2 linked regions of the Homo sapiens genome follow. The protein of the gene in region 1 purifies or fractionates together with the protein of each later gene. This does not show direct contact. Each region holds a gene or a part of one and is shown in the gene's direction. Other genes may lie near its edges.

What was found.
Region 2: the proteins of ACSS2 (region 1) and WARS1 fractionate together in Homo sapiens (co-fractionation; one large-scale study listed by BioGRID). This does not show direct contact.

What each region holds. Positions count from the first base shown.
Region 1 is NC_000020.11:34,882,967-34,886,790, forward strand, and holds part of ACSS2 (acetyl-coenzyme A synthetase, cytoplasmic), read left to right. Parts: coding exon 1-23; intron 24-3,824. UniProt on the Homo sapiens protein: Catalyzes the synthesis of acetyl-CoA from short-chain fatty acids. Acetate is the preferred substrate. Can also utilize propionate with a much lower affinity.
Region 2 is NC_000014.9:100,361,848-100,365,671, reverse strand, and holds part of WARS1 (tryptophan--tRNA ligase, cytoplasmic), read left to right. Parts: intron 1-3,750; coding exon 3,751-3,824. UniProt on the Homo sapiens protein: Catalyzes the attachment of tryptophan to tRNA(Trp) in a two-step reaction: tryptophan is first activated by ATP to form Trp-AMP and then transferred to the acceptor end of the tRNA(Trp).

The sequences.
Region 1 (3,824 bases):
GGAGATAAAGTTGCTTTTTACTGGTAAAAATATCTATCTTATACTTGGTGGCAGATAAAAACACTCATTTGATACTTACAACAACCCAGTAGAGTAAGCAAAGTGTCATCAACTTAATGCCTCAGGTGAGGAAAAATACCTCAAGGAAGCTACATGACTTCCTTCAGATCACATAACTAGTATGTGACAGAGCTGACATTCAAAGCCAAGTGTCCTGACTTCTAGTCTAGTGTTCTTGGCTTTGTAGTTGAAGAGGGAGAAAGGGCATTGGCAAATGGAAGAGAACAAGACTGAGTAGCTTTCTTCCTCATTCTTGCTTTGGAAGACAAATAGTATTGGGTTTTTCACCACCACTACTACCACTACCATTATCATTATCTTTTACAGAGCTGTGTGCCAGAAACTATGCTTAAGTGCTTAACAAATACTATCTCCTTTGATGCTTATAATAATTATGAAAGCACTATTTGTTTTCCTCATTTTACATAGGTGAAAACTGAAATTCTGAGAAGTCAAGTGACATATCTGAAGTGAAACAACTAGCTAGAAGCAAGGCTGAGATTCAAACCTAGGCAGTATAATTACAGAGCTTACACACAACCATGACACTCTATTATTCCTCTAATTCCTTACCTTGGCCTCTCAACAGGTTTGTAAAATAGGAATTCTTAGTTTCATTTTATAGGTGAACAAATGAAGCATTGAAGGGTTATGTAGTGAATAAGGTCATAGAGTGAATAAGTGGTAGAGCCAGGATTCAAATTCAAGTCTGCCTGACTCCTTGCTTGTACCACTAGGCCATGCAGCCTCCCCAGCAGGAAATTTCTAAGACTGCTTCTCCCAGGAATTTAGCTGTCTAGGAGATACTACTATACCGAATCCAAATAGGACTTAGAAATTCCAATAATTGGGGTGTTGCTTCTGCCACAATCTATGAGCACTCAGAGTTGATCTATTGTTTTTGTATTGTTTTGTTTTGTTTTGTTTTTTTGGAGACAGGATCTTGCTCTGTTGCCCAGCCTGGAGAGCAGCGGCATGATCTTGGCTTACTGCAACCTCTGCCCTGCCTCCCCTGCTCAAGCAATCCTGCCACCTCAGCCTCCTGAGTAGGTGGGACTACAGACATGCACCACCACGTTTGGCTAATTTTTGTATTTTGTATTTAGTATTTTTTGTAATGATGGGGTTTCACCATGTTGCCCAGGCTGTTCTCAAACTCCTGAACTCAAGCGATCCACCTGTCTTGGCCTCCCAAAGTGCTGGGATTAGTGTGAGCCACCATGTCTGGCCTGATTAATTATTTAAGCTAGCCAATAGGAGCAGCTTGGATGCTTCATGGGAGAGTTAAATTGAAACTCACTCAATATCTTTGCCCAGTTTGTGTGATATATTGAGAAGAGCCTTAACCTGAGAGACAAGAAATTTAGGTTCTCCTTTCAACTCTGCCATTAACATGTTATATAACCACAGACAAGGCATTTAACTAAGAGTCAGTTTCCTCTTCCATAAAATGGGGATAATAATTCTATCCTTGTTTTTCTCTCTAGATTGTTGTAAGAATCAAATGAGATAACGTTGTAAAAGCACTTATTTGTTTATTGGAAAACACTGTATAGGTGTGAGTGGTCTATTATTATACTACCATTGCTTAGTTGGGGGCCAGTTTGTCACTGAAATTCACTGTCCATTGTGTCTGTTGAGACTCTCTTTAGCTTCTGCTCTAGAGCTTTATGCTTGAGCTCCAGCCAACACTTGGGCTCATTTCCCAGGCTCTTTAAAGATCAGAAAACCTTTAAAGATCTTCAAAGGAGGCCGGGCATGGTGGCTCATGCCTGTAATCCCAGCACTTTGGGAGGCTGAGGCAAGAGGGTTGCTTGAGCTTAGGAGTTTGAGACCAGCCTGGGCAACACAGTGAGACCCCCATCTCTATTTCACAAAAAAGAAAGAAATAGGCTGGGCATGGTGCCTCATGCCTGTAATCCCAGCACTTTGGGAGACCAAGGCAGGTGGATTGCTTGAGCTCAAGAGTTCGAGACCAGCCTGGGCAACATGGCAAAACTCCCTCTCTACATAAAAGACAAAAATTAGCTGGGCATGGTGGTGCACGCCTGTAGTCCCACCTACTTGAAAGGCTGTGGTGGGAGGATTGCTTGAGCCCAGGAGGCGGAGGTTGCAGTGAGCACAGATCACACCACTGTACTCCAGCCTGGGCAACAGAGCAAGACCCTGTCTCAAAAAGTAATAGTAATAAAAATAAAATAAGAAAAATAAAAAGAGGAAAAAAAAGATCATAAAAGGAAATGCTTGTATCTGAATTTGTTCCCTGGTTTGAAAGAACTCAGGTGCCTAATGGAAAACAGAATACACAGGCCAGAGTTTTCAATCACTGGAGAGTTTTCCAGAATCCTGAGGCCCTTTCTTTCTAGAGACACCAGTTCCCCTACCACCCTTACCTGAACAGGCTCTGGAGAGCCTCTCTTTCCCCATCTGTAAAATGAGAGGAGTAGACTAGATCAGCATTTTCCAAAGAATGCTTCAGGAACTGCTAATTACTGGAGATATTAGTAGGGGGCTTCTTAATTCATAAAATGATTGAGTCTGAGAAACACTACATAATAAATTGCCTTTGTGTGAGATTCCCAATGTGTATTAGCATAGTAAAATCTCCAAGATGTCCTATATTAGAGATACCTGATTAATTTTGTTTAACATAGGATTTCCTGAATTTATTGAAGCCCCAAACACTTTTTGCCAGCATGCTATTGATATCACAAGAAGCAGTATTCCATGGAACACCCACTGGGGAAGCACTGGATTAAATAATCTCTAAATTTACTTCCAGTGCAAAATTCTGTAACTCAAAAACAAGACATCCTCACTCCATTTTTACATTGGTCACTCCCTCAACAAGAATTGTTAAAGATATTGGATACTCAGGGCTGCATTAGGCATTATGGATATGGGGGTAAAAAGGCAGGAGACAAGTACCATATAGGCAATTACTATTTAATTATTTTATGTTTATAGTAAAGCAAAAGCAAAATACAAATAAATTGCATTTTATTATAAGAAAGTAAAGTGCAAATATGCCGGATATGTGGTTACATCCCTTTGTTGCCTCTATATTTTTAAATGATATGCTTATACTGCTATTTTTCATCATTTTTAAAGAAAGTATTGATTTCTTACTACGATAGATAAGAATTTAGTTCTTATATACCTCTCTAACTTCCTTCTCTCTTCTTCTCAATATAATTATAGCTGTTTTCTAGTTAATTTAAAATCAGTTTACATAAGAATAGCATACTGTGGTTATATTTCCTTTTATGTACGGATTTTTATTTACTCTGAAGTTAATAATTGCTTACTGGGCTGGGTGCAGTGGCTTATACCTGTAATCCCAACACTTTGGGAAGCAGAGGCGGGCAGATCACCTGAGGTCAGGAGTTCTAGACAAGCCTGGCCAAAATAGTGAAACCTCATCTCTACTAAAAATACAAAAAAAAAATTAGCTGGGCATGGTAGTGCACACCTGCAGTCCCAGCTACTTGGGAGGCTGAGGCAGAAGAATCGCGTGAACCTGGGAGGCAGAGGTTGCAGTGAGCCAAGATCACACCACTGCCCTCCAGCCTGGGTGACAGAGCAAGACTCTGTCTCAAAAAACAATAAAAGTAATAATAATAATTGCTTACCGTTTTTCTTTTTGTACTATTTAAGCCTTTATCATATATTTAATATTTTCCAATCTCACTATCATATGAAATCCTCCTTTTCCTCCCAAAGTTCTCCCTCTTGGAGCTCACTTCTTTCTGTTCTAATTCTTA
Region 2 (3,824 bases), on another chromosome or scaffold:
TTAACTAGAACATAAGCATTTCATTTCCTTCTGGGGTGACTCCACTCCGGCTTCTCCATGACTTCCATCACTTTTTTTTTTTTTTTTTTTTTGAGGCTGAGTCTCACTCTGTCGCCCAGGCTGGAGTGCACTGGCACAGTCTTGGCTCACTACAACCTCTGCCTCCTGAGTTCGAGCGATTCTCCTGCCCTGGCCTCGTAAGTAGCTGGGACTGCAGGCGCCCGCCACCACACCCGGCTAATTTTTGTATTTTTAGTAGAGAGGGGGTCTTGCCATGTTGGCCAGGCTAATCTTGAACTCCTGATCTCAGGTGATCCGCCCGCCTCAGCCTCCCAAAGTACTGGGATGACAGGTGTGAGCCACCACGCCCGGCCCGACTTCCGACACTTTTAACTCCTGTTATCTGTTATCTTTTCAAACACCTTGCTTGTCACCAGATTGTGTCAACCATCTCACATTCCCCAGTAGTTTACTTTGACTATTTGGGACCCTGATTTAAATCATTATTTGTGTGTGTGTGTGTGTGTGTGTGTGTGTGTGTGTGTGTATTTTTTGAGACAGGGTCTCGCTCTTTCCACGTTGGAGTGCAGTGGTGCAATCCTAGCTCAGTGCACCCTCAAACTCCTGGGCTCCCACCTTAGCCTGCCAAGTTGCTGGAATTATAGATGCAAGCCACTGCACCCAGCTCATATTTTAAATGAAATAAATAGTACTGAAAGAAAGTAATGTCAAAAAAAAGTTACTTTTTTACAGAAAGAGATTTACTCACCAGGTAGGCCTCAAACGATTAAACCAAGTTGTTTTAAAACAAAATTATAAAATAAATAAAAGACCCAGTGGGGTTATGTAAGCCCATCATTTTGGGAAGTTGACAGTGGTATTTTTGTCCATTTAATATTAAATTTGAATAACATTTAGTAAATGTTTTTAGTTAGTAATTCTTAGTGACTGCAGTTATGTTCATTATTTTAGTCAACTTAATACATTTTATAATAACTCTTCCAAGTGTATTATTTGACTAATGCAATTGGCTGGCACACGTTGAAGACATCAGAGGTTGCACAATGAGACCAGAGTTAAGTGGTGAAAAATTCAGAAGTACATTTGTATCTGACCCTGAAATGTCTTGGTAGTAGAAGCACTTGATGTTTTGGAAATTTTAAAAATTAACTTTTAGCAAAATAGTGTGAGCCACATTGGGAGTGCCAGTTCTAAGAGAGGGCACCTTGAGCTCTTTCTTCTCCTGCCATTTATCTAGGCCATGGACCTTGAAGGTCTTTTCTGCTCCAGTGTATCTAAAGAATAAGATCCACATCCTTCAGTAGCAGCAGCTCATTAAAGCGGCAAGTTTCCTAGGGGGAAATAAGTCAGCATCTGAGGGCTGTGAGGGGAAATAGTTTGAGCAGGACTAAAGAAGCAATGCTAGGTCTTAGGTATTAAGAAAGAGAGCAGAGCCTTTTTCTTCTTCTCCTTTTTGTTTAAGTAACTTCTAAAATCAAAATATACCATTCATATAGAAAAACATGCTGATCATAAGCACAAGCAGGCACCTCACTGAATTTTCACAAAATGACCACACCTGTGTAACCAGCACCCAAATCAACAGCAAGCAGAGAGCACCTAGAAGCCACCCTCACGCGCCTCAGCCTCTGCCATGACTCCTCCCACCAGGGGTAGCTCTACCTGGGTTTGAACTGTATGTAATACAGTCTTGTGTCTGGCTTTTTTTTCTGAACATCAGCTTTTGGCGAGGCTCCGTGGCTCATGCCTATAATCCCAGCACTTAGGAGGCCAAGGCAGGAGGATCGCTTCAGGCCAAGAGTTTGGGACCAGCCTGGATAATATAGTGAGACCCTGTCTCTACAAAAAATTTAAAAATTAGCCAGACATGGTGGCACACACCTGCAGTCCCAGCTACTCAGGAGACTGAAGTGAGACCCTGTCTAAAAAAAACTGATGTTCTGGGTTTTTTGTGGGGTGGGGATCTCACTTCATCACCCAGGTTGGAGTGCAGTGGTGCAATCTCGGCTCACTGCAACCTCTGCCTCCCTGGCTCAAGCAATCCTCTGACTTCAGCCTCCCGATGAGCTAGGAACACAGGTGTGTGCCACCACACCTGGCTAATTTTTTCTATTTTTGGTAGAGACAGGGTTTTGCCATGTTGCCTAGGGTGGTCTCGAACTTATGAGCTCAGGCGATCCGCCCGCCTTGGCCTCCCAAAGTGCTGGGATTACAGGTGTGAGCCACTGCACCCAGCTAACATCAGCTTTTGAATCCTGTTTCAGTGTCCTGGTTCAGACACTGATTAAGACTGATTATAAGAAAATAGACAAGGTAAGCCTGCTTGTCTTATTTTGGTGCTATTCCAAAATGCAGATGGTCCTTGAGCAGGGACATTGGTTAAATGTTTGACTTTCGCAGAGCCTCCTAGTTACAAGCAGAATTAGACCAGATAGAGTATGAAATGTCAACAAAGCTAGTTATTAAGTGATATTGACTGCAGTGTACTTCAAAGCAAGGTAAGCCTTCCCATAGATAATTGGATAGATTATACGTACTAAACTGTTATTTTTTGCAAGTACTGAGCCTAGGTACTACAGAAATGAGATGGGTGGAACATACTTAACTATCTAACCTGGGCAAACATCTCATCTATGAATCGTATCCATTGGGTTACTGATTCCACAAATCTGGCTCATTTTAATGATGAGTCTCAGATAATTTTGTAGTTTGAAACACAGATTACTCCAGAATCACAGTCCTTTATGGCCCAAGTGCTATATCTGATGGAATAGTTATCTCTGAATGGAGGTTGGTGTTTATAGAACATTCTGTATATGGTAAAAGGAATTTAAGGAGATTTAAAAGAAAGAATGTTCTGTATAAACTGTAAGTGGAAATGTTTGTATTTCCCTTGGTAAGCAAATTGGGCTGTGTATATTCTTTGTTTGTGATCTAATCCAGCAAGGCCAATTACCAGAATAGAGCTTTAGGGCATAGCATGACTAATCAGCTTAATTAGGCCTGCTTTTCTAAACACCAGGCTTCCAGGGGTGGCCACTATGGACTCCTGCAAAAGAGTCTTTAATACATTTCCAGACTACCCAAGGGTACATTTTACCTTTGTTTTTTTTTTTTCAAGATAGTTTGATAAGACTCCAAAATGTGATGATGTAACTATTTCCCAGTGAATCCCTCCTTAATTTATAACCTGAGAGCCTACATTTTTTGTCCTTGCTTTTATCTGTTTTAGTTGCTCTTACTATCCTTAGTGGCATCATTGGTTAAGTTAACGTAAATATTCATCTCAACCTGTGTGGTATGTAAAAACTAGTTCCAATGCAGAACTCCAGGAATCTCAATTAAAGGAGCTTGTCACACACGTTCTCTGGCATCAGTGGTGTTTGAGAAATCTTTAGCATATGAACTTTGTCATAAATGACAGTGTATATTGTGTCACTGCTACTGTCCCAAAGTGTTCATGGTAGCACTAGAATAACAGATAAAAATGAAGTGTTTTCGAGCCAATGACTTGCTGTGATTCTATGGGTAAGCTCCTCTACCTCTCTGAGTCTCAGATTCTTGAGCTGGAAAAGGACAGTGACAACAATACCTGCCTTGTAGGGTTGTGACACTAACTAAGGTAACACGTGTAAAAGCATTTAACACAGTGCCTGCCACAGAATAGGCATTCAGCACATATCAGCTATTAGTAATACTTTTAGCCATCCCTTTTATTTCCTCTCTCAGGATGAAATTGATTCTGCAGTAAAGATGTTGGTGTCATTAAAAATGAGCTACAAAGCTGCCGCGGGGGAGGATTA